4 linked regions of the Homo sapiens genome follow. The protein of the gene in region 1 interacts with the protein of each later gene in a pairwise test. Each region holds a gene or a part of one and is shown on either strand. Other genes may lie near its edges. The genes, in order: NEK6, PLEKHA7, LZTS1 and CALR.

What was found.
Region 2: the proteins of NEK6 (region 1) and PLEKHA7 interact in binary tests that used the Homo sapiens proteins (3 or more experiments, as listed by UniProt).
Region 3: the proteins of NEK6 (region 1) and LZTS1 interact in binary tests that used the Homo sapiens proteins (3 or more experiments, as listed by UniProt).
Region 4: the proteins of NEK6 (region 1) and CALR interact in binary tests that used the Homo sapiens proteins (3 or more experiments, as listed by UniProt).

The regions. Positions count from the first base shown.
Region 1 is NC_000009.12:124,309,196-124,317,574, reverse strand, and holds part of NEK6 (serine/threonine-protein kinase Nek6), read right to left. Parts: intron 5,067-8,379; coding exon 4,926-5,066; intron 3,653-4,925; coding exon 3,590-3,652; intron 1-3,589. UniProt on the Homo sapiens protein: Protein kinase which plays an important role in mitotic cell cycle progression. Required for chromosome segregation at metaphase-anaphase transition, robust mitotic spindle formation and cytokinesis.
Region 2 is NC_000011.10:16,786,484-16,794,862, reverse strand, and holds part of PLEKHA7 (pleckstrin homology domain-containing family A member 7), read left to right. Parts: intron 1-148; coding exon 149-375; intron 376-3,660; coding exon of another isoform or gene 3,661-3,663; coding exon 3,664-3,852; intron 3,853-3,947; coding exon 3,948-4,065; intron 4,066-4,984; coding exon 4,985-5,088; intron 5,089-5,566; coding exon 5,567-5,767; coding exon of another isoform or gene 5,768-5,776; exon of another isoform or gene 5,777-7,381; intron 7,382-7,625; coding exon of another isoform or gene 7,626-7,688; exon of another isoform or gene 7,689-8,379. UniProt on the Homo sapiens protein: Required for zonula adherens biogenesis and maintenance. Acts via its interaction with CAMSAP3, which anchors microtubules at their minus-ends to zonula adherens, leading to the recruitment of KIFC3 kinesin to the junctional site.
Region 3 is NC_000008.11:20,293,557-20,301,935, reverse strand, and holds part of LZTS1 (leucine zipper putative tumor suppressor 1), read left to right. Parts: intron 1-8,379. UniProt on the Homo sapiens protein: Involved in the regulation of cell growth. May stabilize the active CDC2-cyclin B1 complex and thereby contribute to the regulation of the cell cycle and the prevention of uncontrolled cell proliferation. May act as a tumor suppressor.
Region 4 is NC_000019.10:12,941,591-12,946,350, forward strand, and holds the end of CALR (calreticulin precursor), read left to right. Parts: intron 1-1,946; coding exon 1,947-2,039; intron 2,040-2,122; coding exon 2,123-2,323; 3' UTR 2,324-2,899; downstream 2,900-4,760. Other genes in the region: RAD23A (UV excision repair protein RAD23 homolog A), read left to right, coding at 4,359-4,430. UniProt on the Homo sapiens protein: Calcium-binding chaperone that promotes folding, oligomeric assembly and quality control in the endoplasmic reticulum (ER) via the calreticulin/calnexin cycle.

The sequences.
Region 1 (8,379 bases):
AACAAACCTGCATGTGTACCCTCTGAATCTAAAATAAAAATGGAAATTTAAAAAAGAAGGTGGGCCAGACGTGGTGGCTCATGTCTGTAATGCCAGCACTTTGGGAGGCCGAGGCGGGTGGATCACCTGAGGTCAGGCGTTCAAGACCAGCCTGGCCAACATGGTGAAACCCCGTCTCTACAAAAACACAAAAATTAGCCGGGTGTGGTGGTGCACACCTGTTATTCCAGCTACTCGGAGGTTGTAGTGAGCCGAGATCGCACCACGGCACTCCAGCCTGGGTGACAGAGCGAGACCCTGTTATCAAAAAAGGAAAGAAAGAAAAGAAAATCCTCTTGCCCAGATTTTGTGTTGAAAAGGACGTCCTGCGCGAACACTGGCCATCACATCGCTGCCCTCAGCACACATCATGCTCCATAGACATGTTTTTCAGTTACCAAAAAAAGTGTCAAAGCAAGTGAATGGCAAGTTGAAAGTGCCTTCAAATCTCTGAGACATGACCTACGGCGTGGGCAAGCTGCTATGAGGATAAATGGGAACACCCTGCTCCTTCACCCTCCTCTTGAACTTCACCTCATTATGTCACCAGGAAATCTCACAACCTCTCAGGGAGGACTCCCCAAAAACTGCCCAGGTCATCAGCAGTCCAGGCATGACACAGTTTCTCCAACAAGGGAGAAATGAGAGGGGTTGGGTAGGAAGTAAAGCCCCATCAAGGAGGCGCTGGTTCCTGGGGAGGGGAGGAGGGAGACTCCTCCCCCATTTCCCTGCACGTCTGAGGGCAGGGGGTTAAGGAAGGGCTCCCTTAAATGCCCAGGCAGTCTACACAGGCACAGGCAGAAAGGGGCTCCAGACGTCCATTGGGCTAAATCGCCAAGGTCCAGAGAGGGGAAGGGATCAGCCACGGGTCCACAGCAAGCAGGGGCCGAGCTGAGTCTAGAACCTGGTCCACATGGAGTCCACTTCACAGCCTGTGGCCTCTTGGTGGGCCCAGGTGGGTCTGGAAGGGGACACACTTGGGTCAGGGACAGGGAAGGTGCTGCAAAGACGCAATGTGGTTGGGCTTTGTCTGGCTGTGGTGGTGGCCAGAGGGAAGGGAGGGAGAGCTGAGAGTAAGGGTCCCTGTCCTTTGAATCTCTGCCATCAGGGGCTCTGCTCCCAAGCTCCAGGCCCTCCCGGATGTAACACAGAGTGTCTATGATCTGTCTTCTCCACTGGGCTGCACCCTGGTGTCCAGCATTCAGTGGTGATCAGAAATTGCACAGAATGAATGAACACACGCCTGCGTTCCAACAGGACCCACCTTCTTGTCCCACGCTTGGCAGCTGCCGACCCCACCAGCCCCCGCACTTGAGAGGTTTTGGGTTTGGGTTCTTTGCATGAATGATGTGATATGTCAACAGTCACCCCTCCGAAAACCACGTTTCCTTTTGTTTTGTAGGAAGCACCTCGTGCCCTGGCACATCCTGTTGACTTCCCATGGGCTACCTGTGGAGTGGGACCCGTGTTCGGGAAGGCGGCTGGCATTGGCGGGCAGAGGTGGCAACCATGACAACTGGGCTGCCTTGGGCGGCGAGCGTACCACACACCAGCGCTGCCCTGAGCTCGTCAGACATGCTTCCTCACTGACTCCTCCAGCGTCCCTGTTGTCATCATGCCCCCTTTACAGATGAGGAAACTGAGGTCCTGAGAGGCCCATGGCTGGCCTGCAGCCACACAGCTAGTGAGCGAGGGGTGTGTCCTCTGAAACCCCGGCTTGGTGCCCTTGGCTGCATGGCAGCCCTGGAGAAGGGACCAAATCCCCTCTGCAGCCATGTGGGTTTACGCCAGGCTCAGGCTCCTGCAAGGCAGGGGCTGCGGTGGCACATCTGTGTGACCAGGGACCAGACCAGGCTGTGCTCAGCATGCTCACCTGTGGGTTCCTTCACTCGGGGAGAAGGGCACATGAGGTGGGGAGGGGGCAATGGGTGATCAGGACAAACATTCCTCAGGGCTGGGTAAGTGGCAGCAAGCTGACCATTACTTAAACATTTAAACAATGTTTTCGAGGGATATTTTTTGACCTATAATAGTTAGTGGTAAGGACACCTCCTGCCTCCAGCCTTGACTCCCTCACCCACTGTGGCCGGGGGCCACCAGAGCAGGCACTCACAACTCACACCCAGCCATGGCCCCCCGACTTGCAGCCACTTCAGGGGCTCCCCTTTTGTTCTGAGTGTGTATCTGGCTCTGCTGCCATGTCCAGCCTTCTGTCTCCCCAACCTCCCATAATCCACGGTGCTGCGGTGCCTGGAAGAAGGCTCACTTCGGCCTTCCAGATTCTGGGATGGTGCCCTGCCCTCTGTGAGGCCTGCCCAGGAAGCGGGTTTCCCTGGGGCTCCTGGCCCACCAGTCAATCTGCATCACCCTGGAAGGTCACCATCTGCTTCCTACCTGCTTCCCCACCAGCCTGGAAGTCCCCAAGAGCAGGGCCAAGGCCTGAGAACACAGGGCAGCGTGTGGCAGAAAAAACTGCTAATCTGAAATTCTGCAGCTGTGGCTTCGGCGGGCAGCCCTGCCACCAGCAGTCCCACTTTGCTGGAAACTGCCGAGCAAATCCAGTATGTTTCATGGGGGGCCGGGTGCGGTGGCTCCCGCCTGTAATCCCAGCACTTTGGGAGGCTGAGGTGGATGGATCACCTGAGGTCAGGAGGTTGAGACCAGGCTGGTCAACATGGTGAAACGCTGTCTCTACTAAAAATATGAAAATTAGCTGGGTGTGGTGGTGGGTGCCTGTAATCCCAGGAGACTGAGACAGGAGAACTGCTTGAACCGAGAAGGTGGGGATTGCAGTGAGCAGAGATTGTGCCACTGCACTCCAGCCTGGGCAACAAGAGCAAAACTCTGTCTCAAAAAAAAACAAAAGAAATAAAAAATAAAAATCAGGTGTGGTGGCATGCGCCTGTGGTCCCAGCTACTCGGGAGACTGAGGCGGGAGGATTGCTTGAGCCCAGGAGTTTGAGGCTGCAGTGAGCTATGATCATGCCACTGCACTACAGTCCAGGCAACAGAGTTTGCCTCTAAAATAAAAAAAAAACCCACCACCACCACCACCACCACCACTACCAACAAAACCAAAGAAAAAGGCTGAGAGGAGAGATGGAAAGAGGATGAGAAAGAGAAAAACAGGGAGACAGACATAGAGACAGAGGCAGAGCCAGACAGGCTGCAGTCTGGATGTGGTCCCCACAATGAACTCCTCCCCTAGCCAAGCCTGGTCCATAGGCCACTGCGAGGCAGGGTCAGGGCTGCCCTGTGGGGAAGGACTTCTATGCCGGGTACTGCCATGTACAAGCAGGAGGGGCGTGCAGCAAGGAGGAAAGGCTGTAGGCAGCGACCCCAAGGGCTGGGCAGAGCGATGAGGCGGGCCGCTCCTGCCTGGCCAGGAGAAAACTCACTAGCCGCTGCCCCTAGAAAGCTATCGTCTGTTAACTTAGCAGGGGCTGCGGATTCCTGGCACCCAAGGGCTGTGATGGACATGATGTGGCCCAGCCGCGGCCCCAGAACCTCCCCGAGGAGGCAAAGCTCCCGCTCGGCCCAGGGTGCTCACCTTCAAGAGGCCGATCTCCTTGACACAGTCCTGCCTCGCCTTGGCGTCCATCATCTCAAAGATCTTGGGCGGGAGGAAAAAGAGAAATAGAGTGGTTACAATCTGTGTCCAGTGACCCAAAGGAGGCCACGGGGTCTGCTTTCCAGTCCCGGCTCTCCCACCTCCTCACCAAGGGACTCTGTGACCCCCCCCTGCACTCCCAGCCCCTGTAGGGCTTGCTCACTGTGGGTCCCCCCAGCACTGTCCCACCACAAAACCCATCGTGGCACTAAAGAACCAAGACAGAGAGCCCAGGTGAGCCCCTCCCCAGAAGATGGAGAGGGCGGGCCAGGCACAGTGGCTCACACCTGTAATCCCAGCGAGGCTGAGGTGGGTGGATCACTTGAGGTCAGGAGTTCGAGACCAGCCTGGCCAACATGGTGAAACCCCGTCTCTACTAAAAATATAAAAATTAGCTGGGTGTGGTGGTGCACGCCTGTAGTCCCAGCTACTCAAGAGACCTAGGCAGGAGAATCGCTTGAACCCGGGAGGCAGAGGTTGCAGTGAGCTGATCACGCCACTGCACTACAGCCTGGGTGATAGACTGAGACTCTATCTCAAAAAAAAAACAAGATCAAGAGAGAAACTGGTCCTTTTTTGGACAGAGAGGACCCTGCTACTCCTCCAGCGCCCTGAAGCTGCGGGTGTTCTCTCCCCATTTCCCCAACGCCATTCTCTCTCCCGGCCCTCCTCTGCCCAGGCTCTCAATCTTGTTCTTTAAGGACAAGTAAGCAAATCAAGGGGCTTGGGAAGCTTTGCTGGAGGATTTAAAGCCATTTCCTCCGGCAAAGCTGTGTTCAGACGGGCCCAGCGGCTCTCATGGACATGGCTCCTGTCCTGACTTTGCCGCTTGACCTACTTCCTCCATTTAGGAGGGACGCAGAAGGCAGGAAGCCCAGAACTGTGGAGCAACCGCAGGCGCAAGGATGGGTGGACATGGTATGAACCTCAGCTCCCCCAAGACTCATGCTGGGGCCCTGGCGGTTATGAGATTTTCCTCATCTGAGAGATGAAATGACAATCCCCACCCACGGGACTGTTGAGAGGCTCCATGTGCTCCTTGCATGACCCAGTACACAGCAGGCGCTCAATGCATGCTCGTTTTTCTTTTCCTTTGCAGTTCACAGTGAACTTTCATCAATAGGAGTCCACCTGGTTCTCTCTGTAACCCAGTGAGTTGAGTGCTGTTTCCCTCGTTCACAGAAGAGGGGAGAGAAGGGACTGGCCCGGGCACCCCGTCCAGATGCAGAGACCACCTCCCGAGATGCAGGTTTGACCCCACGGGTTGTCAGCTCACCTGCACCTTCTTCAGAGCCACTGTCTTCCTGTCCAGCAGGCAGGTGGCCTTGTACACCTCGCTGAACTGTCCTCGGCCTATCTTCTTTTCGATCTGGAAGTCCGCCAGCGAGCAGCGAAAAGACAGCGTGTTGGGATGCCTCTGGAACGGGGGACAGAGGGCCTCCGTGAGCAGCCAGGCTGCAGCAGAGGCCTGGGGACGACCCCTAGAGGCCCAGCACCCCAACAGCACCCTCTAAGGTGAAGGAGGGACTCTGCTGCCAACCCTGCTCTGGGAGCCTCCCAGGCACCCCCCCAGGGGGCTTTCTGCACAGGGTCCCCTGGGTCCCCTCAAGGACCCCCAGTGCAGGTGAAAAACTGAGGCTGTTCATGCTCCCCACTGCCCTCATCACCACCTTCATTGTCTGACTGCTTGTTTGTTTGCTGTCTCTGAGTCCCATCCCTGGGGGCTAGCTCCGTGGGACCACGGGCGTTGCCCGTCTCATCCTCTCCTGAATCCTTGATGCCCAAACTGGGGTCCGGTAAGCCGGGTGCAGCTCATGTATCCCCAGCCCGTGGCCACCATGCAAAATGCCCCAGGTCATCATAAGAAATGGCAAGTTCCCTTCCTGGGGCAGCCGTTCCCCATCTCAGACAAGAAAACCAAGGTTAATATTCATAGCCTTGGCCAGGTGTGGTGGCTCACGCCTGTAATCCCAGCATTTTGGGAGCTGAGGCGGGAGTTCGAGAGGTCAGGAGTTCGAGACCAGCCTGGCCAACATGGCGAAACCCTGTCTCCACTAAAAATATAAAAATTAGCTGGGTGTGGTGGCCCATGCCTATAATTCCAGCTACTCAGGAGGCTGAGGCATGAGAATCGCTTGAACCCAGGAGGCAGAGGTTGCAGTGAGCAGAGATCATGCCACTGCACTCCAGCCTGGGTGATGGAGACTCTGTCCCCCTCTCAAAAAAATGTGCAGCCTTACACCCTGAGCCCATCCTTTAGATAAACTGCCTTTTTTAGGGTGTCGTGAAGAAACCAGAGCTCCACAAAGACTCTGCAGGGGCCAGCATTGGAACACATGATCCTGCGCTAGGACCTGCCCAGGGATGGAGCCTCCAGGTGAGACCACAGTGGCCAGGAGGACCCCAGGACACCTGTGCAGTGAGCTCTCAGGAAAAGGCAGGAGGGGGCGCCAACAGTGGGCCAGGGAAGGAGGAGACAGACAAGGGGAGAGGATGCCACATCTCTGGCCTGCCCTATGGTGAGATGGGCCCGGCTGTGTCTCCATTTGCCTGATGAGGAAACTGAGGCCCAGAGGGGCCAGCCATGCCCACATCACCCAGCTCCATGCCACCGCCCCTAGTGAAGCCAGAACAAGCAGTTCAACTTTCTAGCATGAAGTGGGTCTTTGGTGAGGGTCACACTGAGCCGGGCACCGTACCGAGGCGTCTTTAGGAGCCAGCACCCTGGCGGAAGGCATCAAGACCAAACCGAGAACTACAGGACTGGCCCTTCTGACAGCTGCTTCCCCACCTGGAAACACCAGGAACTGCTGGCCGGACCAGCTGCGTCTCAGCCTGAGATGCCTGCGGAGCAGGGGCACGTCTCCTGGGCAGGTCTAAGCTGGGTCCATCAACTTCTCCTCTGTCCTTCTCCCAGAGTGCCTGAGGGGAACCTGGTTATGTGGTGATCCCTACTCTGGGACCCTGAATCATGACTTAATGAATAATAGAAACTCACTGGAAAAGCAGGGAAAAAAGTAAAGTGAAAATGTCTCTTCTAGGCCAGGCGCAGTGGCTCACGCCTGTAATCCCAGCACTGTGGGAGGCCGAGGCGGGCGATCACTTAAGGTCAGGAGTTTGAGACCAGCCTGGCCAAAAAATTTTTGTAAAAACACAAAAATTAGCCGGGTGTGGTGGTGGGTGCCTGTAAATCCCAGCCATTTGGGAGGCCGAGGCAGGAGAATTGCTTGAACCTGGGAGGCGGAGGTTGCAGTTGGCCTAGATCGTGCTACTGCACTCCAGCCTGGGTGACGGTGAGACTCCATCTCAAAAAAAAGAAAATGTCTCTTCCAGATTTGGCTGAGGGAACTCTACAGAACACCCTCCTGCGGGAGTGAGTGATGGGAGTCCAGGCCTCACAGCACACAGCAAGGTGAGGGCTGGGCCAACCTTGACTTTGAAGCCTCGAGGCCTAATTACCTCTCATGGTGGGTCCTGCCAGAGGACCCGATCTGGAGGGCTGCTGGAGGAGGAAGATGATGATTTTATCCACCATGTGCCAATGTCTGTCGGGTAAATACACCTGTACACAGAGCACCCACCTAAGAAGAGCAGGCATCCTGAGTGTCTACTGCATGCTGGGCTCTGTGCAGACACCGCCCACGCGCCCACTCTTTGGGTCCTCAGAACAACCCTGTGAGTGGGCCTCACTGCTGTCCCCATTTCAGGAATCTGAGGCTTGGAGGGGTAGCAGTGACCTGTTCTGATCAGGCAGCAAAGAACAGCAGAGCTGGGGTGTGACCCCAGGACTGGGGACTGTGGTGCCCAAGCTCTTGCTCCGTATCGGGTGGGCTCTCAGCTCAGATCCCTCCTCGGCTTTTCACTCAAGACCCCCTGACCGGCCAGGCCTGCCACTTCCTGCTCCAGCCTCCATTCTTTCAGTCACCTGAGCCCTGCCCCAGGCCCCGCCCCAGGACCCGCCACCGGCCTCTTCAAAAGGGGGCCCCTGTCTAGTCCCCTCCACGTCCTCTGCACTGAGGCTCTGACCCCAGAGCAACTGCTTGGAGCATGTTTGTGGAATGACACATGGAATGTGCCTGACACGACCTGGCGCACAGTGGGACTCTGTGACTCAGACGCCGTCACCTCTAGGAATGCAGCCAAAATCACATACCCTCATAAACAGCCAGGGCGGCTTTCTGAGCACTTAGAAGAATCGCACGTACTCATAAAAATAACCATGAGGTGTTGTACGTTAGACGCCTACTATGTGCTAGTTTCCAGCTGCTTAGACAGCTCTATGTCTCCAAACTCCTAATAGCTTCATGAAGCAAGGGTTATGAATCCCATCTCGCAAATCAGGAAACAGGCTAGAACTCCCTGTCAGATCTAGAGCCAGCTGCACTGCTGGTGATGGGGGTGGGCTCCCTCCCCTCTTGGGCCTCAGTTTCCCCCAGGCACAGTGAAGGGTTTGGAGGAAGTGGTCCCTGAGGGTCTTTGCCCTGGAAGACCAGGCTTCTTACTGTGACTAGTGGGAGTCTGGCCGGGGTTCCCAACACTGCCCGTCCTGGGAGGCTACACCGTGCAGCTCCACAGTGGGGCCGAAGCTCCTGGTGGATGTGGGTGGAGGTGGCTGGGGCTCCAGCTGCTCACACGCATATGGATGACCCAGATTTGCATTTCTTGTCACAGTCCATCCGACCCAATTAGAGGCCAGCTCCTCTGGTGGGGCAGCTTCCTAGATGGAGCAC
Region 2 (8,379 bases), on another chromosome or scaffold:
GTGGTGGGAGGGTGGAAGGCTGGGAACCAGGTGGGTGGGATGGCCCTTGGGGAGGTTGAGTCTTCGAGGTGCTAAATTACTCCACTCATCCTCCAAGGAAGGGGGTCTTTGTTCCATCCCGTGCTTTGTTTCCTTCTATGCCCCTTAGAGAGAAAAACGGTGCCTTTGTTTCCTCACCCGCCTGTGCCTTCACTCTCAACTTCTGAGAGCAAGCCGCCCCCACAGCCCAGTCCTCCCACCAGCCCTGTGCGGACCCCTCTGGAGGTTCGACTCTTCCCCCAGCTGCAAACCTACGTGCCGTACCGACCTCACCCACCCCAGCTGAGGAAAGTGACATCCCCCCTTCAGTCACCAACTAAGGCGAAGCCCAAAGTTGTAAGTAGTGATAACTAGGAGCTGAATGCCATTGTTTCCTCTCTGTCCTCAGATTACCTTCTCCTGGGAGAGAAACTCCTGGGAAAACTTGGGGAAATGGACCCAGCCAGCGTCCTAAAGGAGTCCTTAGTCACAAGCAGTTAAAAAGTAGTATTTCCCTGCTATTGTGCCTTAGACTGTCAGAACTGGAAGAGCCCTGGAAGATGATCTAACCCAACTCTCCCATTTTGCAGTTGGGAAAACTGAGGCCCACCAAGAAGAAGTGAGCGTGCTGAGTAGGGTGGAGTTTGTGATCTGCAGAGAGGTGTGTGGCTGTGGACGAAGCTGTCCCCATGCAAACCTTTGTGCAAATCCGCAGGGGGCTCTCCTGCAGTTACACAGCCTGTGGGCAGTGAGTTCAGTCCAGTGGAAAAGTGTCCTTCCCTTCACCCGCCGCTGAGCACTGGGCTGGGTTGTGAGGATGCTTTGATCTTTAAAATAACCTCGCAGAGTATACACAGCAAGAGCAGTATCCCCATTCCACAGAGAAGAAAACTAAGAGCCTAAATTGTTGACATTTGCTCAATGTCTCCATGCTAACTAGTGAATCCAATCACATCTCCTGGCCCTTCTCTTTTATTCTGTGCCATCTGCCATCTAATTGGGCTTTCAGTCCCAGATCCGGTCTGTGGCCTCTGTGGCTGACTGGGCCAGCACCTTGGTTTGCCTGGCATAGAAAGGGGCCAAGCTCTTGGCAGAGTCTGGGAATGCAGGAGACTTTAAAGAAATAGGAGATGTGGTCAGGTCCCAAGAGAGCTCACGCCTCCAGGGCCAGGCCAGCCTTGGCTGGAGAACACAATGAGGCTGGTCCCAGTGCAGGGAAGCCATAGAAGAGTGGACCTCGGAATGGGGCCCTCCAGATTTTTGCCAACAAAGGCTTGGAGGAGACTTACCTGGGCATTGTGTGTGCCTGGACCTCTGATGAGGTCAGTGCACAGTGCTGGGTAAAACACATGAGTTCTGCTGCCCTGGTCTTCACCATCTACCTGCTTCCAGCCATAGTCCAGGGCCCAGAGCTGGACCCAGGATATGGCCCAGCACCCAGCCAGAGAGTCACTGTGGATTTCAGCATCTTGAGATCTCCTTCCCAATCCCAGATCCAAGAGGTGGACTGGAGCTCTAGCCCTAAAACAGGAGAGGGAAAATTCCAAAACAAACAGCAGGAATGTCTGGGGCAGATGGCTGCCAACATAGGGCAGAATGCTGCCAGCTGGGACAGGGCGTAGGGGAAAAAGGCACTGGCATAGGAGCTGGGACACCCAGATTCCGGGACTGATTCTCTCACTGTGTCCTCAGGCAAGTCCGTCCCTTCCCTGAGCCTCCTCATTTTCCCTTTTGTAGATGGTCACAGAGGCTCCTCCTCAGCTTGGTCATCTGTGGCTCTCAGGCAGGGCTTTCTCAGCTTGGGTGAGCATCAGGATCACCAGGAGAGGTCCTCTCTCCTAGGAATATATGTGTGTTTGCCAGTTTTACCATTTGTTTTATTACTTACTTGTTTTTAACACTTATAAGATGGGCGTGGTGCTGCTTGCCTGTCGTCCCAGCTACTGGGAAGGCTAAGGCAGGAGGATCATTTGAGCCCAGGAGTTTGAGGCTGCAGTGACCTGTGATTACACAACTGCACTCCAGCCTGGGCAATACAGCAAGACCCTGTCTCAAAACAAAATAAAACCCATTTATATTTGTGAAACAATAATATCCATCCTGAAAATGACATAAAACAGGATTATATAATTTAACAAATAACAATAAAGAGACCACCTGTTTTATACCAACAGCTAGACTAAGAAATAGAACACTGCCAGCAACCAGAAGCCTGTGGGTTCTTTCCCAGGCCAAGCTGCTTCCTGTCTGCCAGAAGTAACCACAATCTTGACTTTTTGGATAATAATCCCCTTGCCTTTTTTTTTTTTTTTAATTTTAGTACCTGTGTTGACTCCTAAACACTGTGATTATGCTGGTATATAATTCTATATACTATTTTGTGTCTTGCATCTTTTCTTCAACATTATGTTTGTGAGATTTATATACATTGTTGCATGTGGCTATAGTTCTTTTATTTTTATTTGACTTATTTTCTTGAGTTTAATGTCTTTTTAAAAATAAATTAGATAATATTCTCAAAAGATACAAAAGCAAAAGATATAAAAAAGTACATAATAACATGTCTCCTTCCCACCCTCTGCCTCCAGACATTCCATTCAATCAAAGGCAATCAATGTTTTATGTTTATCTTTCTGGGGAGCTTTTTAGAAATTGGTGATTCGGATATCTTGTCAGGATTGGAAACTGTGGATCCTCAGAGAACCAGTGCGTATCTTAGGCAGATGGCTTAACTTTCACACATCAGTGAAGATTGTTGATAAACCTTTGCTTTGGAGTGCTCTTTCCTGAACTTTCCAAGAGCTTGGAGTGCCCTTTCCTGAACTCTGCAAAATTCTTAAAAACAAAACCAAATTAGACCGAGAAAGAGGGAATTTAGGAGGTGGAAGGCATGATGGTCGTTAGTCCTGCGAGTGGGTGTTCATGGCAACCAGGGGCCGGTCTGTTGATATGTAGAGGAACCACAGCCCTCACAGAACACTGTGGACAGGGAGTTTCAAGGAAAATGTTGCATTCATCACATTCTAGGGAATGAACTGCATGGTAGGCAGTGAGTCACTCATCCTGACCGCCTGTTCTGTCTGAGTCAGGAAGGAGGAAATATTTTGTAACCATGCACATTTCTGATAGAAAGGCCAGGAGGATGTAGACTCTGTCCTTGTTCAGGTCCCCACCTTGCTGAAGGCGCCAGAGCTCGTGTAGGGCCAATGAGCCGGCTCAGGCTGAGCACTGCTGAGTGGGTAGATGTTACTCTCCAGGTAGGTGGTGCTGTGATAAGCATGGAAGTCAGGGCAGGGTTAGCAGCCTGCCTGCGATGTGCACTCCAGATGAGCGGAGGGAGCAGTTCAGCACAGCACCGAGGGCATGGACCCAGGAGACCTGAGTCCTGGGTTTCAGGACACAGTTATACAGGTAACACTTGGAGGAATAGAAACTGTATACCTCTGAGGGGATAGAGGAGCAGAGCATGTCCCTTCTTCACTGCTCCGCCAGGGGAAGTGTGAGTGCTCCTTGGCTGAGGCAGTCATGTTCTGTGGCTCTGATGTGGCCTGTTCCTACCCTTTAAACCTCCACTGTGGCAGTACCTAGCAGTCCTCCCTCCAGCTCCGTCTCGCTGACCACTGGTCTGGTTCTCTTTCTCAGCAGGAAGATGAAGCACCTCCCAGGCCCCCACTCCCCGAACTCTACAGCCCAGAGGACCAGCCCCCGGCTGTGCCGCCTCTGCCAAGAGAGGCCACCATCATCCGGCACACATCTGTGCGGGGCCTCAAGCGGCAGTCAGACGAGAGGAAGCGAGACCGGGAGCTGGGGCAGTGTGTGAATGGGGATTCCAGGGTGAGCGGGGGACCCTGGGGCTGCCACTCTACATGTGGGGAGAGGTAAAGGGGTGTGACACTGGCAGGTCACATCACCTGGGACTCTGCCCACAGGTGGAGCTGCGGTCGTATGTCAGTGAGCCTGAGCTGGCGACCCTCAGCGGGGACATGGCCCAGCCCTCCCTAGGACTTGTGGGCCCTGAGAGCAGGTACCAGACGCTGCCAGGCAGAGGTAAGGCAGGGCCCTCCCTGGAGTTTCTCTGGGAATCCCACCACACTGCTTCCAGCCTTCAGCTGGTGCCTCGTACCCTTCTGCCTGCAGCTCTAGGCCTAGGAGTGAGCAGCAGCTGTCAGGGGGGTCTGGGATGCCAAGAGGGAGGACCTGGCCTGTCTTCCTCTGGCCCACATCCTGATTCTCTTCCTCTTTTGTTACATCTGTCCCCAGGAACAATGATAATAGCAGTTACTAGAAAGCCTGGCACTGTTTAAGCACTTTATATAGACATGATATTCACAACAATCCTATGAGGAAAGTACTGTCATCCCCATTTTAGAGACACAGAAACTAAGGCCCAGAGAAATTAAATAACTTGCCAATTAGCTGGTCATTGGTGGAACCGGAAGACAATCCCAGTGCTCTGGCTCCAGAGTCACTGCACCCTGTAGGCCGGAGTGCTGGGTGGCTGCCACCACCTTGGCCATCTCAGACCTTCCAGAGTGCCACTCTAAGACTCAGTGAGCCCTTTCCTTAAATGCTTTCTTGCCAGTTGAGTGTCCTTCTCACTGTCCTCCTCACCCCAAGTTGGGTTGTGCAGGGTGCCTAAGAATGGATCAGGGGGTGAAAGGCATTCCTGCCCCGCCAGCCTTTCTACCTGCCAGGCAGCCCAGTCATCTGCATGTAAGGGAAGCCTGGGGTGGTCCACAGATCTGCAGGGACACTGCCCCCCATCAGGGACAAAGGTCACCCCTGGGCTGGCCCCCATCCTCTATTGGGGACCTTGCTCCTCCATGCCCTGGGGAGGAAGAAGAGAAATAAGGGTGGGTCATTGACTGGGTGCTCTTGGTACTCCTGCAAGAATGTGTGATGAGGGAGAAGCAGGGACCCATCCACCCCAGCACAAACATGCTTGCACTTCTCTTTCCTCACTAAGGGCTCTCAGGGTCCACGTCAAGGCTCCAGCAGTCGTCCACCATTGCTCCCTACGTCACACTCCGGAGGGGTCTCAATGCCGAAAGCAGCAAGGCGACCTTCCCTGTGAGTGGCCTTGAGCTGTCGAGGACCTCCCTGCTCCTTCACATGGGGAGGGAGGGTCTCCCAGGGGGACAGTAACTGGCCATCCCTTCAGCCCTGGGGATGGCCTCTGGGGTGGCCTCAGCCCCTCCTGAGCTCCCTGTCACCCACTGTCCACCAAGGAGGGCATCCTGCCTTTCTCTCTGGCCTGTCAGGGTGGCAGGAGGGAGCTCAAGAAGCCTGCACCCTGGGTTCTGGCCTCACTGGACAGGCCTGAGCCTAAGTGTCTGCATCTGCAGAATGGGTGCTACTCAGAAAGCTCCTGAGGGTTGGGGGCATCGTGTTGCTTAGAGGAAATAGTTCTCTAAGGCCAAGAGGAGCCCAACTAGAGTGTGCATGTGTGTGAGAGAGAGACAACGGGAATGCAGCCAGCAGGGTGGCTGTCCTCTGCGTGCCCAGCCCAGCTGTTCTGTGTCTCTCTTGCCTGCCTCCTCTTCCTCAGAGACCTAAGAGTGCCTTGGAGCGCCTGTACTCAGGGGATCACCAGCGAGGCAAGATGAGTGCAGAGGAGCAGCTGGAGCGCATGAAGCGACACCAGAAGGCCCTGGTCCGAGAGCGCAAGAGGACACTGGGCCAAGGGGAGAGGACGGGCCTGCCCTCATCTCGCTACCTCAGCCGGCCGCTCCCTGGAGATCTTGGCTCAGTATGTTAGGAGGGGCCAGGCAGCGGGGCAGGGACAGGGAGCCGAGTGCCCCTCAGAGTCCCCCAAACACAAGCACATCACACCTCCCAGTGAGAGAGCTGTCCATTGACCTACATGGTTCAGAGAACACCCCACGGGGCTGTTTGTCCACGACCCAGGCTGGACGAATGCCTGGTCAGAGGGTGACCTGAACCAGAGCTGGAGTGAGGATCAAACAGGCCCAGGAGCCTGAGGAAATACCCAGTCAGTCCTCCCAGCCGCGATGGAGAGGGGCCTTTGCAGGCGTTCGGAATCTCGGCTGAATTCAGGACCTGGGAATACAGGGTTCAGAGAGGAGAGGAGGAAGATGGTGACATGATTTGGTTAGAAGCACAAGCAAACTGATCAGCCTCCCAGACCTGCCAGCAGATGCTGTGTGAGGGTGATGGAGCACGGGGTCACACCCCTGCCCCAAGGGCCACTGGTCTCCCTGGGCTTGCAGTGCAGAGGCCTCAGGGTGTCTGGGATTGCTGGGGAGGCCTGTGCTGCCCCCTGGTGGCGCTTCCTGGCGCTGCGCCCTGTCCACAGTCACCTTAGGTCCCTTTGGAAACATTCCATTTGACTTTTCCCTGTTGTTTGAAATCCCATGTTTCCCTAAACCTCTAGCCTGATTGTTCTTTCCCTAATTCATTGCACAAGCTCCTTTGCTTTTAGTGTTACCGCTCATTGCCTCTCTAATCCTGCCTGATTGTGTTTACAGAAGCTTCTGATTTGCATTGAACATGCTCTAACTGGCCTGTGCTACTTATTACCGGGCTTGTAATAGCGGTTCTTGTCTCCATAGCCTGTTGAGTGTTCCCAGATGTGACTCACCTTTCTGCTGCCCTCTTCATGCAGGCCTACTGACTCATAATTCACTTGTCCCAAAAGCCACCCCACAAGCCTGAGCCAACCTGCTGCCTGACGCCACAGTCATTGGCAGAGGTCTGGGCATTATTAATTTATAAAAATCCATGCTTTACACCTGGACAGTAGACAGGGACTTCAGAGATTGCACGTTTGAATACATTCTCCCAAGACTGAGGTTGTTCGGTTTTAATTCCTGTAGTCCAATCACACAATTTCTTATGGAAAACCTTTTGTGTTTCTGGTATTTAATAACTTGAAGGGATAGCAAAATATACTGTGTATTCAGAGGGCCTCTCTGCAGCTGCTAGCTCAGACACCAAAGGGGTAAGGCCCAGGACATTCATATCTTTAAAAGCTGCAAACCTGGTAACCTTTAAACTTTTAAAACAAATGTCATATGGGGTAACACTGACCTTTTATAATTTGATGTCTCAAATGTAGAGATTATCTAAAAATCGTAACTTGAATACCTTGTAATTTTTCTCTTAAAAAAGAAGACTTGTGTAAGTCTCTGCATCAACGCCAATAAACATGTTGCTTAATAATAATGGATTGGCGTGGTTCTTCCCCAGGATACCTTATAGAGTCTAGTGAACTTTTCCTGTTTGTGGAAACAATCAGGCTGGGTTTAAATGAGGACTTGTCTCTATTTGGAGCATTTGTGAGCGTGTAAGGAAATGAGTGTTTTCTTTGTGAATCATTAAATTGATTTTTTCATCTTTGGAACTTCAGTTGCCTAATCCTTTCCAACAATAGTTGGAAACCATCACCTAAGAGTGATTACATTGATTTGGAGTCATTGAGAGCTTGTGCATGAATGGGTGAAATGTGCGAATATGGCTCTGGGTTTGGGGTTCTGGAGGGACTTGAGGCATCAAAGACAATCAGGACCATTTGGGGCTTTGAGGTGGATGGATGGGAGAGAGAAGATGGCCTGGGATAGATAAGCATCTGCTTTGGTTTTGCTCAGGGGAAGAGAGGCTTTGAGCCTGCTCTGTTCTCAACAACCTGCTCAGCGGTCAAAGGCCTGTGAGGATGCAGGTCCTGGGTCAACAGGAAGTCACCACGGAGCTGGACAGTCATGGTTGGATCTTATCGGTTAGATTTTCCCTCTTGGGAAGCTTGTTACAAAGTTGATACTGTGAAACAGCCTTAGAAACATTCCATTTGATTTAGCATTTCAATTTTATATGATTTAGTTTTTTTTTCTAATTTAAAGAAAACATCTATCTCAAATAGATGGGTCTCATACAGCAGTTTTTCTGCCTCATTGGCTCCAAGCTGCTTTTGCTTGTACCTCCCCAGCCCTACTGTAAGTGCGAGATCCCCCACCTACGAATGTTATCTTGTTGAAAATTCCCAATAGAAAGATCCTTGGTTATTCTTCTTGCTTAGCAGGGCCTTGAAGGGCGTGTTTTTCCATTAATTCTGAGCCTGGGACGTATGTCTCCTGAACCAGCTGTAGAGAGTGGAAGGGACAAATCCCTTCTCTAGAACTCTGTCCCAAGTTGTTTGGAGGTCACCCTCTCTGGGAGCCTTCTATTTCCCTGGGGACCACTGTGAGCCTGAAGTCATGAGTCTTAGACCTGTGCCCCAAGGGTGTATGTTTGAAACCTCTGGGAACCCAGATCAGAGAGCACTTAGCAGTCTGGAACAGCCCATATGAAGGGGACAGCAGCTTCATTCTCTATTGCACATACAGCTTTTCCCTAAGGGGATCACAG
Region 3 (8,379 bases), on another chromosome or scaffold:
GGGACATTTGATGTGCTGAAGATGGTTGTTAGTTAACATTTATAGCAGCGGCTGTGTGCTTCACGAGGTAAACCTGTCTCAGCAGTTCAGCTTGTGCATTTGTGTATCTGCAGGAGGTGCCCCCAGCTGTGTGTGCCTGGGTCGATGTGGGGCAGGGGTGCTGTCATAGAAGGAGTGCTGCTGCGTGGGGTGCCCTGGGGAAAGCCAATGCTTTGGGAGTGTGTGAGGGAAAGATGTGCCTTTCAGTTTTGAGAAGCCGTGGGTCAGCGTGTATAGCAAAGCTATACATGGGCTCCAGACGTATATAAATGGCTTTCTAATCCTGAAAACTTATTTATATGCCTTTGCGCTTATTCAACGTTCATTTCATAAATATTCATTGGGCGCCTACCAAATGCAAGGCTCTGAGCTGTGCAGCGAGGCTAGGAAGATGAATAATGTAATGATGACAGACCTATGGGTAAGCACCTTATAGACCAGTGTAATGGATAATACCGTAACACTTAATGCCAGCCACTAAATCCACTGTGTGCCTGGAACTTTTTATTCATTATCTCATTTAATTTTCACTGCAGCCCTGCGGGGTATGTATAATTATTAGATGAGGAGAGTTAAGTAATTTAGCCAGGCTACAAAACCGAGGGGCAGGGATTTGAGATCAGCTTAGTAAGGTTCTGGACCCTGGCTCTGTCCATGTTATTCTGCTACCTTTGAACATAGAAACACTGTTTCTTCTGCATGGAATATTCCTGCCTGGTCTCTCTACCTTCTCCACTTAACTGGCTCCCACTTTTTTTTTTTTTTTTTTTTTTTTTGAGACGGAGTCTTGCTCTGTCGCCCAGGCTGGAGTGCAGTGGTGCGATCTTGGCTCACCGCAACCTCCACCTCCTGGGTTCAAGCAGTTCTCCTGCCTCACCCTCACAAGTAGCTGGGACTATAGGCGCCTGCCACCACGCCTGGCTAATCTTTTATATTTTTAGTAGAGATGGGGTTTTGTCATGCTGGTCAGGCTGGTCTTGAACTCCTGACCTCAAGTGATCTGCTGGCCTCAGCCTCCCAAAGTGTTGGGATTACAGGCAGGAGCCACCACACCCAGCCCCACTGTGGGTTTTAACCATAGGGATCAACTCCTCCAAGAAAGTTTCCTCTGTTTTTTCCTCAATTCTGAGTCAGGTACCTTCCTCAGAGTCCCTACCATCATACCAGTATATTATGGCATTTACTCACTGGCTCCTGAGGAGTCTACAAAACTCCTAGAAGCAGAGATTGCATCATGAGTTCCCAGCTCAAAATACAGTGTTGGCGGCGGGGCGCTGTGGCTCACGCTTGTAATCTCAGCACTTTGGGAGGCTGAGGCAGGTGGATCACGAGGTCAGGAGATCGAGACCATCCTGGCTAACACGGTGAAACACCGTCTCTACTAAAAATACAAAAAATTAGCCGGGCGTCGTGGCGGGCACCTGTAGTCCCAGCTACTTGGGAGGCTGAGGCAGGAGAATGGCGTGAACCCGGGAGGGGGAGCTTGCAGTGAGCCGAGATCACATCACTGCACTCCAGTCTGGGCAACAGAGAGAGACTCCGTCTCAAAAAAGAAAAAAAAAATACAGTGTTGGCTTTCAGTAGATACTATGAGTATGCCCTTAGTAAATGCTTGTTTAATAAGGTAAGGGGAAAGATGAGAGCTCTCAGAGACCTTTGGCAGGGAGCACTGTTCCCAACAGTGGATTTCTGCATGGGTGCCCTTTGCTAGTGTGGCCACTGACTTTCCTTCCTCTGTTACTGGGCCAGCTCCTTCAAGGCCTCTCCCTAGATGGGGCCATCTCAGGCCCCACCAACAGTTCGGGAGTCCGAGGGAACACTCGCCCCCACCCACTCTATCTCCAGGTCAATCAACCCACAAGCACAGTTATGGAAGGGGACCATTCTAGGTGTGACCTAGACCTGGGGTTTTAAAATCCTGCACTTTGAGCCGCCACATGGTTCCAGGGCAATGATGAGATGTTTCTGGGATTTTGCCAACAAAGAAGTATCCAACTACGTGGGGAATCTTGAGGTGATTTACATATTAGCTCTTTGAGTTTGCTGTTGAATAGATCTTTGTGCTGCTACAGTTTGAAGCCTGAAATGGACACTCCTAGGCTTGCAGTTGAGAGTGTGAATTGCTACCATGTTTGGGGAGGTAATCTGGCCATGATTTCTCCGAGGCGACGCAGTCAAGTGATTCTCCTTCCATCTCCTTTCCATCGCCCTGTTATTTCTCATATAGGAATTACTACCTGTGTTCTCGGGGCTCCATGGCGATTTAAGTTTTTCTTTTAAAGATCATTGATCAAGTTTGAAAAACTCTGCATTTCACTATTTATTAAAGGTCTTATCCGTGTGAGGTGCCAGGGAGTGGGGAATAACAGCAAAAAAGACGAAATAATGCTTAGAGACTAAAATTTGTGATGACAGTTGGGAAGAAGAACTGGCACACCTGAACCAATGACAAGTAAGTTGAAAACTGGATTGTATTAGGTTGCTGCAAAAGTAATTGTGGTTTTTGCAATTAAAATACTAACTTTGAATACAGCAGTTTCTCAGCAGGAGGCAGGTGAGCCAGAACCTTCCTTACCAGGGAGGAGGTGGCTGTGAACTGAACCTTGAAGTTGAACCTGAGGAGGGTATGAAGGGAGTCAGCGAAGCAGGAGCCAAGTTCATGGCTCCAAGATGCAAGCTGAGAGCTGAGGAGACAGGGCTCTCTCTTCCAAGAACCTTAGCCAGAGCCTGTTGCCTCCTTATGCTGGGTTTGGCCAGCCACCCAGACCAAACAGAGGTGGTGCATAAAAAATGGGAGGTTTTCAACCTCTCACCTCTCACCACTGCCTCCAGCCAGCGTGCAAATTAGCCTCCAGATCCCTCCTCCCAGGGTTGGAGAAGTTGATGGGGATGTGTCAGCTACAGTCGAGCATAGCTGGTGAGCTTACGGCTAGTTAGCTCCTTTTGCCATTTGGCAAAGCCCTCTGTTTTGCTGCAGTTTTCATCCTGTGTCTCTCACACTGGTTTTTTGTTTGTTTTTTAGAGACAAGATCTTGCTGTTTCTCTCAGGATGGAGTGCAGTGATGTGATCACGGCTCAGCTTACTGCAATCTTGACCTCCTAAGCTCAAGTGATCCCCAGTCCTCTCTCCTCAGACTCCCAAGTAGCTGGGACCACAAGTGCATACCAACACACCTGGCTAATTGTTTTTAATTTTTGTAGAAATAAGGTCTCGCTATGTTGCTCAGGCTGGTCTTGAACCCCTGGCCTCAAGTGATCCTCCCACTTTGGCTTCCCAGAGTGTTGGGATTCTAGGTGTGAGCCACCGCATCCAGCCTCACACTGTTGCTTCCTGCTGGACACTGACTTCCACCATCCCTAGACTTCCTTAATGGTGATTTCAATAGCGCTTTTTACTTGTACAGGACTTTACACTTTAAAAAGTGGAATAAAATTATTATTATTATTATTTACACCTCACAACAACTCTGTGAGAAGATTCCCTTTGCCATTTGGCAGATGAGGAAACCAAGTGCGCCTTTGAAAGTTGAAGGAGGGCTGGGCACGGTGGCTCATGCCTGTATTCCTAGCACTTTGGGAGACTGAGGTGGGCTTATCATCTGAGGTCAGGAGTTCAAGACCAGCCTGGCCACCATGATGAAGCCCTGTCTCTACTAAAACTACAAAAATGAGCCAGGTGTGGTGGTGCACGCCTGTAGTTCCAGCTACTTGGGAGGCTGAGACAGGAGAATCTCTTGAACCCGGGAGGTGGAGGTTGCAGTGAGTGGAGATCACACTGCTGCACTCCAGGCTGGGTGACAGAGCAAGACTTTGTCTCAAAAAATAAATAAAAAACAAAAAAAAAGAAAGGTGAAAGAGTTTATGCAAGATTTTTAAGAGGAATGCTGAGATATGAACACCAGCTGTTCTGAGTCCCAATGTTGGGCTGTAACTACCAAGTCATTGGGGTTCACCAATTAAATGGATTTAGGCTCATCGAATTGTTGGCAAGTGTTTAATATGCAGGAAAAAGAGATTTTTAAAATTATAAGAATGCAGTTACTTTTGTATTTATTGTAATTCAAGCATGATGAGGGCATTCGAATCTTCCTCAGTTTTTCTGTGCTCACTTCACCCCCCATCTCCCTTTTCCCTAAGTGCTTGTGATGCATATATGTTAAGCTCAATAAACAATAAACTAGGGCCTGGCGTGATGGCTCATGCCTGTAATCCCAGCAATTTAGGAGGCCAAGGTGAGCCGATCACCAGAGGTCAGGAGTTCCAGACAAGCCTGGTCAACATGGCGAAATCCCATCTCTATTAAAAATACAAAAAATTAGCTGGGCATGGTGGTGCACGCCTGTAGTCCCAGCTACTCAGGAGGCTGAGGCGGGAGAATTGCTTGAACCCGGGAGGCGGAGGTTATAGTGAGCTGAGATCGCACCACTGCACTGCAACCTAGGCTAAAAAGCGAGACTCTGTCTCAAAAACAAACAAACAAACAAACAAACACAATAAAGTAGGATGTAGCTAGGATAATGGAATGTCTACTTGGCATTTGCTTTAGAGAATGAAATTTATCATATGTCAGTTCTTTCTTTATAGCTTGTCAATTCAAAAGGTTTAGTCCACTCCATGTTGAAATTAGAGCAAATGTTGCCTCCACAGAATTTGAATTAATGACATTTCATTGGAATACCAACCTTAATTGCATAATATATTTCAGTGTTTCCACCTTGTCCATGAGCAAGTACGTTCTGAACTAAAATGGGATAGCAGTCTCTTCACTGGTAGCTCAAGCAATTTGTGGAAACCAGACTTCAGGGGCAATCACACATGGAGGCTGCCCCCAGGGGAGAAGAGAATTGGATGGAGCATCGTGGGAAGGAGGGGAGCGAAGGGAGGCGGAAGACGGAGACAGAAGACAAGCAGAGAGGGAATGTGTGTGTTAGCTAACAGCTAAAGCTAATTGATCTAATCAATCCAGCAGAGAGGTGATTTTTCTTACTAAGTGACAGGCCAAATCGGTGTCTGAACAGATGTGATGTGGGTTGCGTCCAGCACCTGGAACAAAGACAGCAAAGAGCTGCCCCATGGAGATCGCCAATAGATGTGCTTCATGTCAGTTAATCATTGTGGGAGAAGATAGGGCTGCCTTCAGGCCAGTGCCAGAGCACATGCACACACATGCACACACGCACACATACACACATACACACGCACACACACGTATCCATTTCATTCATCCACTCTCATTGTCTCTCCCTCTGAGACGTGCTTTCTTGTGATACCCAAACTCACAAGCCCAAGTACATCACATTACACAAATCTTCAGAGACTCCCAAGATGTCAGGACCCGGGAGATCCACACCTCTGCCTACCTGGGCTGGCCAATCTGTGGCATGGTCTGAGGTGAGCTCAGACAGCCCCCTCCCCGATGCCATGCCTGGGGCAGTCTTTAGGTGGCCACGAACCCATTAGAGTTACAGATCCTCTGGAGGAAGAGGATGGGCCAGTCTAGGTGAGACTTTCAGCCTAAGAGGGGTACAAGAACTGGGGCCCCTCAAGGAGGTTGAAAGTGGAGGTGAGATGGGGTTGGGAGTGGGCATTGTTCTCAAACCCTCCCATTCCTGTGCATGAATCTGACCTCACAGAATAACCTCTCAGGTGGCTGAGGCCATCCCCGCCCAAGGCATCAGGGCAGGGCTGTGCACTTGGCTCCCTGGCCTGTTGGCTTGGGGGACATTTTCACTCTTCTTGCTGCTGCAGAGCCATTTGCTGCTAAATCACCCTCCTCTTGGCACCATGGACTGCTAAATTGGTCTCAACTTGCTGTACTTCCACCCACCACCTTAGTCATTATTCGCTGGCAGCATTCAGAGAGTGGGTGTAAGGCAGCCGAACATTATATTCCTGCTGTAAAGAGGGAGAATTGAGTATAGACATGCAAGGAGAGGGGAGAGAGGGAAGGAGGGAAGACAGCGTGAAGGAGGCAGGGAAACAAGGCCTGGGGTTTGCCAGCACCTTTCCCTGGTGACCCCAGTGACACTGGATTGGGGGGGCATTATAGGTGAGTGGGTCCTGGCTCAGTGGGAGGAGACAGAGGGGTCCACCTGCTACTGAGTGTCTTCCCACCCCTGGTCTGGAGGCAGGAAAGGACATTAGCCATGGGAAGAGAAGGGTTCTGCCCTCTGTGAACTCCCTGTTCCTTGAATTCTACAGTGTATAACGTACTTGTCACTCCCATTTGAGCACTTGTTCCCATGTATTCATATTTAGCTTTTTATCTCTATCCTCCCTCCCAGCATAGGTTATAAGCCCCTTGAAAGAGAATGTGTGTCCCGCATCTGATATATAGCACCAGGCCTTAGGAATGGTCTAGGGCTCGGTCCCAAATGGCAGAGATGGATGGCGCTAAGGCCCACAGTGCTTCTTTCTACCCAGCCACTTCAGATCTCTCTGTGCCACTCAAGGGCCACAGAAATTGGAAAGCCAGGCAAGCAAGAGGAGATGGAATCACAAGGGAATCTACAGGGCTTGGTCTGCAATCTCAGTGGGAAACTCCAGGGAGGGAAAGGGTTACACTGCAGAACAGACCAGCCAGGAAAGCAGAAACTTAAGAGACCTGTGGTCCTTGTGCAGAAGGCTGGGGGTGATCTCCACCTGGCACATGGGCTCTCCTGATAGCTCATCCATTGCCCAATGCCCAGGCATGGTGCCGGGGCTGGCAGGAGGTAGGAAGCAGAATCGGTTCTCACATCGGGCAGCAGTGACAGCGTCAGGCAGGGCAGACTGACCTTGACAGGAGGCTCCCTGAGTCACTGATAACATTTGTTTGGGCACCCAGGGAGAGGTTAGAAAGGGAACTCATGCCATCCCAAGCTGGCTTGGGACCTCTTGGGGCCCCCAACCCAGGCTCCTTGCCTCCCACACTCTGCTTGGGGGAGATAATAGGAAAATGCCAAGAACAGAAGCCTCCCTAGCTAGGGAGATGGGGAGACTCTTGAGGGATATGGGGATGAGCCCTGAGGCTGCCCTTGACCTTCCAGAGAGGCAGCCCCATGCCTGGTGTCTGTAGGTACCTGTGTGGGGTCTGCCCTCCCCTCTGTCTCCCATGGTCATCCCCAGCAGAGGTCCAGAAGGACAATCTACACACTCAGGGTAGCTTCCCTTATTTATTGCAACCTTCAGACACTCCAGCTTGAGCTCTTCCCTGCTCCCCGCCACCCCCAAAGGGCATTTCCACAGTGCAAGGGGAGGAGGGAGGGAAGCATGGACTGGACAGCGCACACATCTTGAGGAGACAGCCTCCCCCTCCTTGCCTATCAAATTCCCCCAGCCCCAACGCCTCCGTGGCCCCAGCAGACAAACCACACTGCAGGCAGGTGGGGAAAATGAGAGGAGCCAGGCGGAGCCCCCAGCCTCCACCTGCACTGTAAAGCGAGCCGGCCCCTGAAGGAGGCCTGGGAAGGACTCCCCAGCTGCCTTCGGCTCCTCCCCTTGCCAGGCCCGCAGCTGGCCCTGCTCAAAGGCTGTGCAGCCGGCTGGTGGCTGGTGGGGCAGGTGTGGGCAGGATGCGTGGCTATTCCCAAGACAGGATTTCTTCATCTATCAAACTAGAAGCACCAGGCATTTGGCTTCTCTGGGCTTCCACCAGTACCTCGGACATCTGTTGACTTAGAAACTTTTTCTTGATGTTGGACTTACTTCTATTCTAGAGCCGCAGACAGGACCTCCAACTCTAGGGTCCTAAGATTTGTCAGGACACAAAAGAGCCTGTGCTGAAAAAACTTCAGATACTCTACATGCAAACACAACACCTCAGGGTTGAAAGGATGCTTAAAAACCACTCTATCCATATCCTCTCCCTGTCTCCCCTACACACACACAAATACTCACTGCCAAGAACTTTTATTTCACACCTCAGGAACCCAGTTCTTTCCATTTTCTTTTTTCTTTTTATTTTATTTATTTATTATTGTTATTTGTTTTTTTGAGGCAGAGTCATGCTCTGTTGTCCAGGCTGGAGTGCAGTGGTGCAATCCCTGCTTACTGCAGCCTCGAACTCCTGGACTCCCACATCAGCCTCCCTGGTAGCTGGGACCACAGGTGGGTATCACCATACCTGGCCCATTTTTAAATTTTTTTGTAGAGATGAGGTTTTGCTACATTACCCAGGCTGGTTTTGAACTCCTGGCTTCAAGAAATCTCCCCAGTCCAACCTCCCAAAGTGCTGGGATTATAGGCGTGAGCTACTGTGCTCCATCTCTTTCTATTTCAGCTCCATCCTTTGAAAGTCACAGAAGGCTAGGTTCATGTCCAGCCCTGTGCTACGCTCAGGTGCAAGATGAGCAACCACAG
Region 4 (4,760 bases), on another chromosome or scaffold:
CTCAGGGTCCCGAGTAACTGGGACTACAGGCACCCCCCACCATGCCTGGCTAATTTTTTTGTATTTTTTTTTTTAGTACAGACATGGTTTCACCGTGTTAGCCAGGATGGTCTCCATCTCCTGACCTCATGAACCACCCACCTTGGCCTCCCAAAGTGCTGGGATTACAGGCGTGAGCCACCTCACCCAGCCTTTTTGTAGAGACAGGGCTTCATGTTGCCCAGGTTGGTCTCGAACTCCTGGCCTCAGGTCATCTGCCCGCCTCGGCCTCCCAAAGTGCTGGGATTACAAGGGTTAGCCACCATGCCTAGCCTCTACAAAAACTTTAAAAATTGGCGAGATGTCATGCATACCTGTAGTCCCAACTACCAAGGAAGAAGGATGATCACTTGAGCCTGGGGCATCGAGGCTGCAGTGAGCCATGATTATGTCACTGCACTCCAGCCTCGGTGACAGAGTGAGACCCTCTCAAAAAAAGTTGGGACTTGGCCGGACACAGTGGCTCACACCTGTAATCCCAGCACTTTGGGAGGCCAAGGCGGGTGGATCACAAGGTCAGGAGATGGAGACCATCCTGGCTAACATGGTGAATGAAACCCCATCTCTAGTAAAAATACAAAAAATTTGCCAGGTGTGGTGGTGGGCGCCTGTAGTCCCAGCTACTCGGGAGGCTGAGGCAAAAGGATGACGTGAACCCGGGAGGCGGAGCTTGCAGTGAGCTGAGATCATGCCATTGCACTCCAGCCTGGGTGATAGCGAGACTCTGTCCCAAAAAAAAAAAAAAATGCTGGGACTGAATTTTTGTCTGTTTTGGTCACTGAAATACCTTCTGTGCCCAAGACAGTTCTGGCATGTAGTAGGTACCTGAAAAATACCTGAATAAGAGAGTGAGAAACAAGAAACAGGTGCAGAGAACTGAAGTCAGTGGCCCAAGGTCATGGGGGTAGGAAACCACAAAGCTGGGGTTTGAACCTGGGCAGTACAGCACCTGAGTCTCTCCATCTTTTTTTTTTTTTTTTTTTAAGACAGAGTCTTGCTCTGTCACCCAGGTTGGAGTGCAGTGGCTTGATCTCGGCTCACTGCAGCCTCTGCCTTCCAGGTTCAAGTGATTCTCATGCCTCATCCTCTCGAGCAGCTGGAATTACAGGCATGCGCCACGACGCTGGGCTTTTTTTTTTTTGAGATGGAATTTCACTCTTGTTGCCCAGGCTGGAGTGCAATGATGCAATCTCGGCGGCTCACCACAACCTCTGCATCCCAGATTCAAGCGATTCTCCTGCCTCGGCCTCCTGAGTAGCTGGGATTACAGGGATGCGCCATCACAGACCCCGGGCTAATTTTTTTTAGTAGAGACAGAGTTTCACTATGTTGCCCAGGTTGGTCTCGAACTCCTGGCCTCAAGTGATCCGTTCGCCATGACCTCCCAAAGTGCTGGGATTACAGGCATGAGCCCGTCCCGTCCCTGGCTGTCTCTCCATCTTTCCATCTTTTTTTTTTTTTTTTTTTTTTTTGGAGATGGAGTCTCACTCTGTCACCCAGGCTGGAGTGCAGTGGCACGATCTTGGCTCACTGCAAGCTCCGCCTCCTGGGTTCACATCATTCTCCTGTCTCAGCCTCCCAAATAGCTGGGACTACAGGCACTTGCCACCACGCCTGGCTGATTTTTTGTATTTTTAGTAGAGACGGGGTTTCACCGTGTTAGCCAGGGTGGTCTCGATCTCCTGACCTCGTGATCCGCCCACCTTGGCCTCTGGGCGAGGATTACAGGCGTGATCCACCTCACCTGGCCTCTCCATCTTTTTAACTGCAGTGTCAGCGGTGTTCCTTGTCTTCTCTGCAGATGCAGGCAGCAGAATATAGTGGTTATAGGAACACAGGTGGAAACCCTGTCCAAAGCAAGGGCTATCGGGTATCACCTCTGACCATCCTTCCCATTCATCCTCCAGGTCAAGTCTGGCACCATCTTTGACAACTTCCTCATCACCAACGATGAGGCATACGCTGAGGAGTTTGGCAACGAGACGTGGGGCGTAACAAAGGTGAGGCCTGGTCCTGGTCCTGATGTCGGGGGCGGGCAGGGCTGGCAGGGGGCAAGGCCCTGAGGTGTGTGCTCTGCCTGCAGGCAGCAGAGAAACAAATGAAGGACAAACAGGACGAGGAGCAGAGGCTTAAGGAGGAGGAAGAAGACAAGAAACGCAAAGAGGAGGAGGAGGCAGAGGACAAGGAGGATGATGAGGACAAAGATGAGGATGAGGAGGATGAGGAGGACAAGGAGGAAGATGAGGAGGAAGATGTCCCCGGCCAGGCCAAGGACGAGCTGTAGAGAGGCCTGCCTCCAGGGCTGGACTGAGGCCTGAGCGCTCCTGCCGCAGAGCTGGCCGCGCCAAATAATGTCTCTGTGAGACTCGAGAACTTTCATTTTTTTCCAGGCTGGTTCGGATTTGGGGTGGATTTTGGTTTTGTTCCCCTCCTCCACTCTCCCCCACCCCCTCCCCGCCCTTTTTTTTTTTTTTTTTTAAACTGGTATTTTATCTTTGATTCTCCTTCAGCCCTCACCCCTGGTTCTCATCTTTCTTGATCAACATCTTTTCTTGCCTCTGTCCCCTTCTCTCATCTCTTAGCTCCCCTCCAACCTGGGGGGCAGTGGTGTGGAGAAGCCACAGGCCTGAGATTTCATCTGCTCTCCTTCCTGGAGCCCAGAGGAGGGCAGCAGAAGGGGGTGGTGTCTCCAACCCCCCAGCACTGAGGAAGAACGGGGCTCTTCTCATTTCACCCCTCCCTTTCTCCCCTGCCCCCAGGACTGGGCCACTTCTGGGTGGGGCAGTGGGTCCCAGATTGGCTCACACTGAGAATGTAAGAACTACAAACAAAATTTCTATTAAATTAAATTTTGTGTCTCCCTCCTGTGTCTCCTTCTGGGGAAAGACAGACTTAAGGAAACCCAGCAGTGGTCTTTTTGGGGGGGGGGGGGGTTTCCAGTATATCTCCTTTTTCAGCTATTGCTAGAGAGGTTGCTGAGTGTTCCACAAGATTCCAGGGACCCTTATTTACCCCATAACCCTCAAAACCAACGGGGGAATGGCTGTTGCTGCTGTAAATACTCCACATACTAACTTACTGAATCCTTGAACCTAACTGGTAAGTTTTGGTTCTGCTTATTTATTTATTTTTAAGATAGACTCTCGCTCTGTTGTCCAGGCTGGCGTACAGTGGCTCAATCTGGTTCACCCTGCCCCTTAAACTGGCCTTTTTCATGCTTCTATTCCTTTGGGGTCCTGTGGCTCAGCCCAACCCCTCTGGGATGCCTCCAGGACTGGTAGATCCAAGGGAGAATTCTGTATTTAATGTAGTGAGGCTTTGAAAGTTAACATCTTTAAATACTTCTGGGGTCAGATTAGGTATAGTACAACAAAGTACTCCTGCCCGGAGACCCAAGAATGAAAATTGTAGGTTCATTCCAAAACTCCAGATCCCTAAAGAATGAATGAGGCTACAAAATGGCACCTTGCCCCCGCTTCCAACTTAAGGTTTTTTTTCTGTGCTTGGTGGCCTTTCAGGTATTTCTAGTTTTGAGTAACTTTCACTTTGACTGCTCTACAAGGGTTCCTGCCAGGATACCCAGACCAGAATAAAACTCATTTGGGGGCCGGGTACGGTGGTTCACGCCTGTAATCCCAGCACTTTGGGAGGCCGAGGCGGGTGGATCACCTGAGGTCAGGAGTTTTGAGACCAGCCTGGCCAACACGGTGAAACCCAATACAAAAAATTATCCGGGCGTGGTGGGGGGTGCCTGTAATCCCAGTTACTCGGGAGGCTGAGGCAGGAGAATTGCATGAACCCGGAAGGCGGAAGCTGCAGTGAGCCGAGATCGCGCCACTGCACTCCAGCCTGGGTGACAGAGACTGTTTGAAAGAAAAAATTCTCATTTGGAAGAGGCAAAATGAGGTTTTTACAGAAGAAATACAAATGTCTGTAACCAGTACAGGTACATAAAAACTTTGTTAAAAATTCATTTGAGCGTGAGAGTGGGGACACCAGAGTCACTTTGCAGCCCCGTGACGTCACCGATAACGGGCATGGCGTCACTCAGGAGACCACGTGTGCGGGCCGAGCAAGAAGCCCCGCCCACAGCGCGGAGTTTAGTCTGCGCGTGCCTCGCTCGAGAACGCGCTCGTGCGCATGCCCACAAAGGCCAAGGAGGGAGTGCGCAGGTCACGTGCGCCGGTGGTCAGCGCGCGCATTGCCTGCCCCGGAAGTGGTCGGCGCGCGGCGCGGCGCGCCTGGGCGCTAAGATGGCGGCGGCGTGAGTTGCATGTTGTGTGAGGATCCCGGGGCCGCCGCGTCGCTCGGGCCCCGCCATGGCCGTCACCATCACGCTCAAAACGCTGCAGCAGCAGACCTTCAAGATCCGCATGGAGCCTGACGAGACGGTGCGGGCCGGGCCGGAGCCCGGGGGCGGGAGCGACGGGTTTCGGGGGTGGGGTGGGGGCGGGGAGGCTAGAATCCCAACGGGAGGGGCAGGGAGGACGGCGCGGGTCGGCCCTGCCCAGACCCCCGACCTGCCCGACTTTCCTGGACCCCCCGATGGTCTTTGGCCCAGCCCCCAGCCGATCGGGCGGCGCTCCTGCGCCGGTCTCCGGGCGAGGCCCCACCCCCGGGGCGCTGGCCAGGCCCCGGCTCCAATGTCAGCGCTCTCGCGGGGCGCGGGAGTCACAAGCTCGGATTCCTGGGCAGGCCAAGCTCTCCAAGACTGGGCTCCA